Linked DNA regions of Homo sapiens: region 2 is linked to region 1. Evidence: fine-mapped QTL for protein levels in blood plasma. Region 1 holds a variant in brackets. A gene starts in the other region. All regions are shown on their forward strands. Region 1 overlaps DCUN1D4 (defective in cullin neddylation 1 domain containing 4). Region 2 holds the start of COX5B (cytochrome c oxidase subunit 5B).

The links. PIP is the posterior inclusion probability: the model's chance that the variant is causal. The UK Biobank Pharma Proteomics Project read protein levels with antibody pairs (Olink). The fine-mapping took linkage between variants from a reference panel, not from the people measured, so its PIPs are less certain.
Region 2: COX5B starts here. The variant in region 1 is fine-mapped to the plasma level of the COX5B protein (UK Biobank, PIP above 0.99).

Annotation. Positions count from the first base shown.
Region 1 is chr4:51,861,226-51,866,602 of GRCh38, forward strand. It overlaps DCUN1D4 (defective in cullin neddylation 1 domain containing 4), which reads left to right. Exons shown (of 11, transcript NM_001040402.3): 2 at 2,212-2,282; 3 at 2,445-2,484. It also overlaps the pseudogene DUTP7. Among named protein-coding and RNA genes, the nearest start is that of DCUN1D4, 21 kb to the left of the region's middle. The variant C/T (reference allele first, on the strand shown) is at 2,522.
Region 2 is chr2:97,643,281-97,648,657 of GRCh38, forward strand. It overlaps COX5B (cytochrome c oxidase subunit 5B), which reads left to right and starts at 2,782. Exons shown (of 4, transcript NM_001862.3): 1 at 2,782-2,909; 2 at 3,787-3,860; 3 at 4,064-4,163; 4 at 4,716-5,103. The coding sequence starts at 2,807. The coding sequence ends at 4,828. RefSeq lists enhancers at 1,740-2,674, 2,477-2,526, 2,707-2,886.

The sequences.
Region 1 (5,377 bases):
AGTGGATTTTTGACAGGAATAGAGTGGTTTTGTGTGTGTGTGCAAGTGTGTGCACACATTTGAATTCTCTTGGGTGTAGGAAGGGCAGTGGGCAGAATGTGGGGTTGGAAGGAAGGGTTTTGTGGAGTGGGGTGGTGAAAGATGTTTGGAGTATGAGTTGGGCCCAGCTCACCGAAGTCCTGGAATTCCAGATTGAGGATAACTTGTGTTTCTTGTCTTTTCTACTTCTTCCACATTTATATAAAGGAGGGAGAAAGATATAACAGTTTTGGTTTATTTAGATTCTCTTATGGGAATTTTGGGAGTTTAATTAACAGCAGGGTGGTGAAATGACAAAAGCATAGCCTGGAGAGTTAGAAGAGACCTCATTGCTGGAATGGCTTTTGGCAAGCCCCTTTTTCTCTCCCCTCCCTTACCCTCAGTGAAAAGAGAATCAAGAGGCTAAAGTTTTCTCAGTTTTTGCTTTTTGTTTTTTTGGGGGCCCAAGAGTTTAACTTCATATTTTAAGGTGATAATGGAATGTATCATTTGTCTTCCTATATTTAATCTGAGAGAGTACAAAAAGGGGGCTATGGCTTGGTAGTGGATGGGGTGGAGGTGCAAGAGTTGAATGTTCAAGCTCCTCAGCACCTCTTGCTGGTCCTGAGAGGCCTCTTGCTGGTGAGAGGGCTGTAGCTTCTAGCTTCTACCCCTGTTCACGTTTAATAAATATAAATGTAAATAAATAGGTGTATAATACACATACTTTTCTAAACCTCTGTGCAGTCGTATTTAGATGAAAAATCCAGATTCTCAGCCACTTTATGTCATCATTTACCTTAAGCATGGCTGGGCTATTCAGATGCTAAGCAATTCAAGCATGTCTATATTGGAGGGCCATTTAGAGCTTGAGGCCCTGCTCTGGCTGTCTCTCAGCACAAAATGCTGGTTTTGGGGACCATTCTATATGGCTATGACTGTGAACAGTGCATATGCACATGTATGTATACAGGTATGACCTGCTGTTCCTGACACTGCATGTGAATGTGAGGGGCTCTGCTTCTGCCAGCCCCTCTGCCCTGCAGACCTACTCAGAACTGGATGCCCAACAAGCTTTAGAAGAGAAAGTAAAGCTTTCTAACTGTGAACAGGGAGGCCAGCTTGTTTTCAGGGTTCAGAGTAGCAGCACAGAGGATCCAGCCCAAGCACAGACACCTGATATTGTAGCACCTGCTCTTTGGATCTGTTCTTTGGATCTGATACGTGTCCTAAATAAAATGTTTCAGTAAAGGGAGCTTTTTTTCTTTCTTTCTTTTTGTCAGAATGGTATAACTTGGAGAGTTACAATATCTTTTCATGGTCATTTTCATACTAACCTTTAATAGGAAAGAAGGAACTAATGTAAATCCTGATATTTTGTGAAAATACTTCCAGTGGTACTTATATATGAAATTATTAATAAACTTTCAGCTTACATTTTTATTGCCTAATATATATGCAAACATACTTTACTTCAAGTTGAGGCTGCGCGTAGTGGCCCACACCTTTAATCCCAACATTTTGGGAGGCTGAGGCAGGAGGATCACTTGAACCCAGGAGTTCAAGACCAGCCTGGGAAACATAGAAAGACCCTGTCTCTACAAGAAAAAAAAAAAGAAAAATTAGCTGTGCATGATGGTGCACACTAGTAGTCCCAGCTACCATGCAGGCTCAGGCAGATCACTTGAGCCTGGGAGTCTGAGGCTGCAGTGAACCATGATTGCACCACTGCACTTCAGCCTGGGCAACGTAGTGAGATCCTGTCTCAAAAAAAGGAAAAGAAAAAATAAATACTAATGTTGGGATGCTTTTCTATCATTTTCTTGCCATGAGCTTACTTAATTGTACCAGTAATTCTAGGGAAGAGAGGGGAAAGTGAACATTTCATTTGAGACTTATCTTTCTATTAAGTTCAAGTTCACTGCTGGCAGGATTTTATAACTACTGAAGTACTTTTTGTTTTACCTTAGAATTCACATGAAAATTTCATGAACTTTAACATTTGGTTGGGAATTTAACTTTATTGTCAGACTATTTCTAGGAGGTCACTAATTGCATGTTTTTAAAAAACTTTAGTGTCAAATTAATTGAGATAGTATTTAATTATATCAAAACATTTGTTTATTTTCTGAGTTTGTTTTTTTACAATATTGGAAATAAATGACGCTGACATTTTTCCTTTTTCTTTTCAAGATTTTCAGCTGAACTCTCATCTCTCAACACTGGCAAATATTCATAAGATCTACCACACCCTTAATAAGCTGGTAAGTCATTCTTTTAAAGACAAAATTACCAACTGTTTGAAGTAGTCATTTTGTATAAGTGTATTTGATAAAAATTTAGATTCTAGATATTAGGATATCAGTTGTTTATGAAAATGCTAACGGTATGTGATTTCTTCGTAATAACGAACATATTTCTTTCAGAACCTAACAGAAGACATTGGCCAAGACGATCACCAAACAGGTATCTGTAAATGCTAACACTACTTAATTTTAAATAG[C/T]TTCTTAATATTAGGAAAGAGAAATACTAGCTATGAATGCGCTATGTTGTCATAATGTACTCCATTAACAAATTGTTCCTTGGCTGAGGTTGTTTTTCAGGGAGTAATGAAGGCAGCCATGTTATAGCTTCTTCCCAGTAGGAAATCTCTTCTGGAAGCACTTTTTAATGCCTTTAAAGAGGCTCGGGATTCTCATAGTTTCAAGATACCTTGTTTTCTCTACTGCAGTATTTTCATTTATATTAAAAAGGTGCTACAGTAATGCAATTTGAAAGGTATTCCACAAATATTTGAGAAATTCAGCTGAAAAATGATTTAATATGGTGTGTGTGTATGTGTTCATAGTTACTGAAGATTTAGAAATCAGAAAATTGAAGCTTGATTAGTATAAGTTATCCTCTAACCCTGTGGTTCTCAGAGTTTAGCTGGCATTATGATCACCTGAGGGAAGGCCTTGTTTAAAGTACAGATGTTAGGTTCCACCCCAGAGTTTCTGGTTCTGTAGACTTGGGGTGGGGCCCCAGAGTTTGCTCCTATGTGATGCTGATGGAGCTGGTCTGGAGACCACTCTTTGAGAACCACTTCTCTCAACTGTTAGTAATCATCAAGTCCAGAAACTTGCATTTGATCTATGGTTACTAAAATCCTAGCAAAAATTATTTAAACACATTTTAAAGTTTTTGAAAATGGCCATAGTAATAGACGAATTGAAATTTGTCTTAGTCTGGGCTGCTGTAACAAAAATACCTTAAACTGAGTAGTTTATAAACAATAGAACTTGATTGTTCATGGTTCTGGAGACTGGTAAGTTTAAGGTGAAGGCACCAGCAGATCCTGGGTCTGGTGAGGGTCTGTTCCTCACTGATGGTGCCTCTTGCTCACTGCATCTTAACATGGCAGAAGGGGCAGGCAGCTCCCTCAGGCCTCTTTTATAAGGGCACTAATTCCATTAATGAGGGCTCTACCTCCCTGACCTAATTGCCTCCCAACTCTACCTCTTACTACCAGCAGTCTGGGGATTAGCTTTCAGCATGTAAATTTTGGAGGGGCACAAACTTTCAGGCCATAGCAGTGCTTGTTGGGGAATTTTGAATAGCACAAAAGTAAATAGAGTGGAAAGTTACAGTCGTCTTTTAGACAACTATTTAGACGTCTCTTTAGATGACTAAATAGAGTGAAAAGTGACAGCTGTCACTTTCTGCCAGCACATGGTTTAACATTGGTTCTTTCAGACTTTTTTTTCAAAGCAAAAACTCTTTAAGAAAAAGGTATGATTTCTCATTTTCTATTCTTAGCATAAGTTTTAATTCTTTCCAGTGGAACCCAAACCTCCTGAACCTCTTTCAGTGTCATCCAAAGCTTTGAACTTCTATTTCTGGATAAAGATTTGTTCACAAATGAACTGCAGTTCAATCACCTTTTTTGACTTCAGACTTTTCTTTGCCAAAATAAAACAGTACAGCACCAGCATTTCCTCTGTAATCTTCCTTTATGATACCACCTCCTACATCTATAAAGTGTTTTGCAGCCAAGCCAGCGTGGAGCTACTCTTCCACAACACCTGGAAGGAGGAGCTCTATCTAAATGTCTGTTCACAAGAGCTTTCTCCATAGGTGGTATTGTATCATCTTAGGCACTGTACAGGTCATAGCCTGCAGCCTGTACAGACCCTCAGGTCAGGCCGTGGTATGCTTGGAGAGCTGGGCAAGGCAGAGCTGCATGCTGACCTCCTCCACAGACCAGAGAGCTTGCTGGGGGAAATGGCAGGTATCTCTTTAGAGAAGGGCATGGCAGAACGAGAAGGTGAGCGAAGGAGGGAATGAGAGGGTGCAGGATCCCTTCTCACATTTGTATGCATGCATATATGTTTATAGTCGTGGTTTTTAATTTAGCATTGGTGATATCATACTGTACGTGTTATAGTGTGTTTTTCTTTTTCATTTAATGGTGCATTTTGGGGGCTGTTGAGATTTAAGACTGTCCCCACCTTCTCTAAATTGGTTCAGAATCAATTGAAAATTAGGTGTAAGATGGAGACTGAAGTAACAGTGTTTTTGGAAAACACAACTTAGATGTGCAGCAAGAATGCACAGGACTTTCAGCATTTCACCTGAATCACTGTCACAACTAGATAAGCACAAGCCAGCATACCTGCTGACCCTTTACACCCTGCACTATGACAGTGGAAGTGTTCATACTCTTTCAGCTTGCTCCACTGCAGGCAGATCTGAAAGGGAGTTCAGAGGGGTTGGGCTTTCTGCTCATTTCAGGCTCTCTGCTCAGTTCAGTCTCTCAGCACTTAGATCAGGCACTCCTTCTTCCAGGGAAAGGAGTGAGACAGAGAGGCAGAGAATGCGCTAGGAGTGTTCTAGGAGTTCAGGGGTACTAAGGGTCCCTTCACCTGATCATTCCATATCAGCAAATATAGATCAACTCAAGGACAGTCAAAAACAATTTATTTAATAATTTTAAAAGCAGTATATTCGCATAGTTTTGAAAGAAGTATTGAAAAAATATAAAACAAAAAGTGAAGATTTCTGTCCCAGTTTATCACCCCTAGGTTCCATCCCCCACTAGTAGTCCACGTTTGACTTTCCAGAGGTAACTCTTCTGTTTGTTAACCAAATTATGGTGATGATGATGATGATGATGATGATGATGATGTATTTTTTCCTTAAATACAAGTGTACATTTATATTTGCCACTTTTCCACTCAGTATATCCTTGAGATCTTTTCATATTAACACATTTATAAAGCATCTGCTTTCTTTTTTAATGACTGTAATTTTCTAATCCATGGGTATTTTATAATACGTTCCTTCAGCCTCCTGTTGATTTATGTACACTTATGCTTAT
Region 2 (5,377 bases), not on the chromosome of region 1:
GATCTAGATGTATTGATCTGAAGGGACATCTACAAAATATATATATTTTTTGAGCCGGAGTCTTGCTCTGTCGCCCAGGCTGGAGTGCAATGATGTGATCTTGGCTCACTGCAACCTCTGCCTCCCGGGTGCAAGTGATTCTCCTGCCTCGGTCTCCCACGTAGCTGGGATTACAGGCGCCCACCACCGCTCCCAGCTAATTTTTGTATTTTTAGTAGAGACAGGGTTTCGCCATGTCGGCCAAGCTGGTTTTGAACTCCTGACCTCAGGTGATCTGCCTGCCTCAGCCTCCCAAAGTGCTAGGATTACAGGTGTGAGCCACCGCACCCAGCCTACAAAATATTTTTTAATGAAAGAAGCAACTAACTAAAACTTTGTATAGTAGTTATGTTTTTATATTTTATATTCATATATGCAGTGATGCTCAATGGGAATTTTGCAAATCCAGGGGGCATGTGGCAATGGCTGAAGATATTTTTGGTTATCATGTCAGGGAGGTGCTAATGACATAGGGTTAAATCCTACAATGCACAACCTCCCTCAAAGAATTATCAACCCAAGATGTCAGTTGTGCTGAGCTTGAGAAACTCTGTCATAGGGAAAGGAAAAAAAGGATAAGCACCAAACTGCTAGCTTGTTCCTTATATATCTGTGCTGTTCAACTTATAATGTACATTTATTTTGACAACTGAAAATTATCCTATAAAAATAAGTTTATTGTGCTGGCAAAGACAATGATAGAGCAGAGGTGGCAGACTGTTCCCCAAGCCAACTGTTTCCAAAGGAGACCTGAGGGACTGGGTGTGAGTTGACAGTGGTGGGAGCTGGAAGCAGCAAGGGATGCGGGGACATCTGGGGAGCCTGGACCTGACCTTGGAGCTCACTCACACAATCTAAATAATCCCAGAGTGAGGCTGAGGTTTTCCTGAGTTGGATGAGGGCCTGCGAAAATTTCCTATTATTAGGCAAGCCTACTATGAGAGTGAGAAGCCTAAACTCAATTTCCATTTTATAGCCTGGAGTAAACCACTTCTGGTCAGGCAGCAGGGAATCATAACATATCAGAGCTGAATACCTCACTGGTTTGCTGAGGGGCAAGTTAGTAGGTGTTCCTCAGAAAGGATTTTGTGGTCAATTAAGACAGGGAAACTCTGGCTTAAACTGCAGGTAAATTAAATAAGAGGTCTTTACTGCAAGCCTAATCAGAGCCTTTATTATGCTAGTGTCCATCTCCAAAAGGGTGGTCATCAAATGCAGGCCCTCCCTGTCTTGACCAAGTCCTTTTTCTTGAGATCATGTCTTGAGACTTGGATGCCATGCAATACACTTTGGGAAATACTAACCTAGTTGAACGACAGTTTTACTGATGTAGAAATGGCGGCCCAAAGGATAAAAAGTAGCTGAACTAGCTGGTGGGGCTACTTTCCAGACCAATGCTTTTTTCTCCTGCCTAAGACCTTAACCACAGTTGCAAATTAACTACAGATCCTCAGAATTTTCGCCCAATTCAACTTGGAGGGGTTGCAGTGGAGGTGAGGGAGAAGGGAGTAACAGTGAAGCCATTCAAAGCAAAAACCACCTTTAAAGAAATTTTGGCCTTAGAATACAGGGTTTTTTTTTTTTTTTTTTTAATTGGTGGAGGGGGCACCCAGGAAGACCAGACGTGCTCCTGTGAAGCAACGCTCCACCACGTCCTTTTGAAAATACCGTAGCCTGCATGAGACAGGCGGGAGCACCTAAGCCTTCAACTCTCCCCATGTTGCCTCCAATTGACCTCACTGGGCCAGGAAAAGCCCTATAAACTGGTTTTGTATACTCTATCCAAGTAGTAAATTTACTAAAATTACTGGATCCTACTATATACCAGACCTCTGCAAGGCATTGAAGATTCAATGATGAGCATTAATTCCCACTCTAAGGGGATTTTTCTATCTGGTAGGGAAACTCAGATACCGCATGCAGCTAGCCTGTCACAGGGCTATACTGACTAAAGCTCACCCTAAGAAATTTGCACATCTTAGCCTATGGGCAACGGGAAGCCATGGACGGAATATGTTTTCCGTTTCAAACAAGGAACTCCAGTCACAGCAGGCTCTAACTCCATTTCCTATTATCAACTCCCCTTCCTGCTCCTCCTCCCTTAGTAGCCTCGAAAAAGAGTGGCCACTTCCTTCACATCACCAGGGCCTTGGTCCTGGTAGGGGGTCCCGCCCCCGGCCCTGTCCTCCTCCCCAGGCCGGGACCTCCGCGCCTCCCACACACAGTACAACTCTAACACGAAACTGGGCCAGGACTGCAGGTAGGTCCCGTCCAATGCGACACGCTCGCGACGGCCCACGCACTGCCAGAACCAGCCCTGCCACTAACCAGCCTAGTAAGGAACGCAGTGATCTTTAGGAGCCCACTTCTAAATTCAAATCATTTGGGGTTCAGTAAGTCTCTTCACAGACGGGGACCTAATAGCTTCCATTAGCAGCCTCCACGTTTGCTGAACACGACTACGGGGCCAGACCCACAGGAACTCCAATGTGGTTCAGCCGCTCAACTCCAGGGACCAAAAAGACTTTCCCACCTCCCAGCGTTATTAAAGGCAACCCCGCCCCCAAGCCTCAGCCACTACGCGGTGCAGAAAGAGGCAGAGCTGGGCATGCGCAATTTCCGCCCCCGCCACAGTCTTGGGAGTGGGCGGGCTCGAGGGCTGGGAGGAAGCCGAAAGCTGACCGAGAGGAGAAAGAAGCCCGCCCCCGGAAGTCCCTCCTGTCTCTGCAGCTTGTTCCCGGAAGTTTTGCTGCTAGTCGCGGACGCAATGGCTTCAAGGTTACTTCGCGGAGCTGGAACGCTGGCCGCGCAGGCCCTGAGGGCTCGCGGCCCCAGTGGCGCGGCCGCGATGCGCTCCATGGCATCTGGAGGTACTCGGGTCTCCGGGCGTGCCAGGGACCAGAGTGTTGCCCTCCCAGGGTGGTCCCAGGGCGGCAAAGCGGCGCGGCTCGTGCAGCTTCTCGAGGTCCCAGTGGCCGCTTTACGGTCCCCAGTGCCTCAGGCTCTGCAGGCATCTCCCTGTAATTCTGGACCGCTGCTCCTGCCGCTCCCCGAACTCACTCCGCTGCGAAAGTATCCTAAACGGAGGTGCCGGGTGACCTTGGGAGGGACCGGGGCTGCCACCGGGATGGGGAGGGGTCCGGCCTCCCTTCAAACCTGCGCCCACCTCAAGCAGAGTGGGTTCTACATGCTTTTAGACAAATGTCGACAAATTTGCCTCGGTGGTTGGAGAAAGAAAAGCTCATAGGCCGGGCGCGGTGGCTCACAACTGTAATCCCAGCACTTTGGGAGGCCGAGGCGGACAGATCCCCTGAGGTCAGGAGCTCAAGACCAGCCTGGCCAACATGGTAAAACCCCGTTTCTACTAAAAATACAAAAATTAGCCGGGCGTGGTGGCGCGCGCCTGTAGTCCCAGCTACTCGGGAGGCTGAGGCAGGAGAATCGCTTAAACCCGGGAGGCGGAGGTTCCCGTGAGCCAACATCGCGCCATTGCACTCCAGCCTGGGCAACAAGAGCAAAACTCCGTCTCAAAAAAGAAAAAAAAAGCTCCCCCGAGTGCTGCCGCTTGTGTGGATGGGTACTTGGTGGTTCTTAGGGGACCATGGATATGAGTAGCCTTTAGGAGCTTGTGAGCCCGCTAAAACTTATACAGAAGTTTCGGGGCACCATTTTCCTTGATCATTTCTGTTTGTAGTTTTTCTATCAGTCATTTCAGTCAGCGTCATAATTCACGTTATCTTCCTTTAGGTGGTGTTCCCACTGATGAAGAGCAGGCGACTGGGTTGGAGAGGGAGATCATGCTGGCTGCAAAGAAGGGACTGGTAAGGAGAAACTCCCTTCTGTGTCTTCTGTGTAACTTATGGCCTTGGATGTGTTCATAGTGGTCTCCTCTCTGGGAGTATTTGATACAGGAAACTTGGCTTGTAGGAACAGTCCCCTGAGCTTCTGGAAGGTAGGGCTTATTTGGCCTAATGGTTCAATTCTTGTTTTTTTTGTTTTGTTTTGTTTTTTGTTTTTTCTTCAGGACCCATACAATGTACTGGCCCCAAAGGGAGCTTCAGGCACCAGGGAAGACCCTAATTTAGTCCCCTCCATCTCCAACAAGAGAATAGTAGGCTGCATCTGTAAGTACCTCACCTCTATTTTTTATCCACTTGCTTAATATATCCTACAATAGTGTGTAAGCTGCCTCAAATCTTCAGTGTGTGAGTGCATGTTGGTAAGTTTGTCTAAGGGTCTTGACACTCTCAAGCCTCATTATGCCTGATAGTTCATCCTTACTGGAAAGAAGCGCAGCACAGCGGTAAGACTGGCTCACTGGGAGTGCGGCATGAAGGAGTACCCACCCAGCAAATATTTATTGTTATACTGCTTCTATGCCAGGCATCATTTTAGACACTAGGGATACATACCAGAACGGACCCTGCTTTGCGTTCTACATAGGCAAGGGAATTGTTAGAATTTACAGTGACCTTGATACAAGGTCAGTTTACTCATAGGTGAACTCAGAGCCTCAATTTCTTCATCTGAAGAATGGGAGGAGGGCTTGAACTGATCTCTTAAGATATCAACCATAGTCTTACTTGTGTATCAGAGATGTCTGAGGAAAAGAAATTCATGTTGAAAGTCTCCCTTTCTAGGTTGGATGACCATAAACCACCTTTTTTCCCTTTTAGGTGAAGAGGACAATACCAGCGTCGTCTGGTTTTGGCTGCACAAAGGCGAGGCCCAGCGATGCCCCCGCTGTGGAGCCCATTACAAGCTGGTGCCCCAGCAGCTGGCACACTGAGCACCTGCACTAAATTACTCAAAATGTGCTGTAAAGTTTCTTCTTTCCAGTAAAGACTAGCCATTGCATTGGCTCCTTCTCCCATAGATGGCTGGTCTTATTTCTTACCCGTATTCTTTGGTAGGCATGGAATATGCTTATTTTGGGAAAAGCTGTCTGTTAATGCTAGCTTGCCATCCACTTACTGAAAGTGTATAACCAGTGTATAGTGCTTAGATTAATAATAAGAATAGATCGACAACCCGTAATGCAATGAATGGGACCACCTGGTATGAGAGAAAGGGGCGGGCTGAGGAGTCAGGCTGACAGGACTTAAAATATTGGCTCCATCATTTGGCTCTATCTCTGTGGACATGTTCTCTGGGGGTCAAGTACAACTACAAAAAGGTAAGTACCTTACAAGGTGCTTAATATGTAAAGAGCTGAGTGGATAGTAGGTCCTCACAGTATCCTCATAGAGACAGGGTGGCCTTGTGAAGAGAGTTTTGGGGATTTTGAAGTCTTGAGGGACCCAGGTGCAAAGTAAGAATTCATGGGGATACCAGCAGC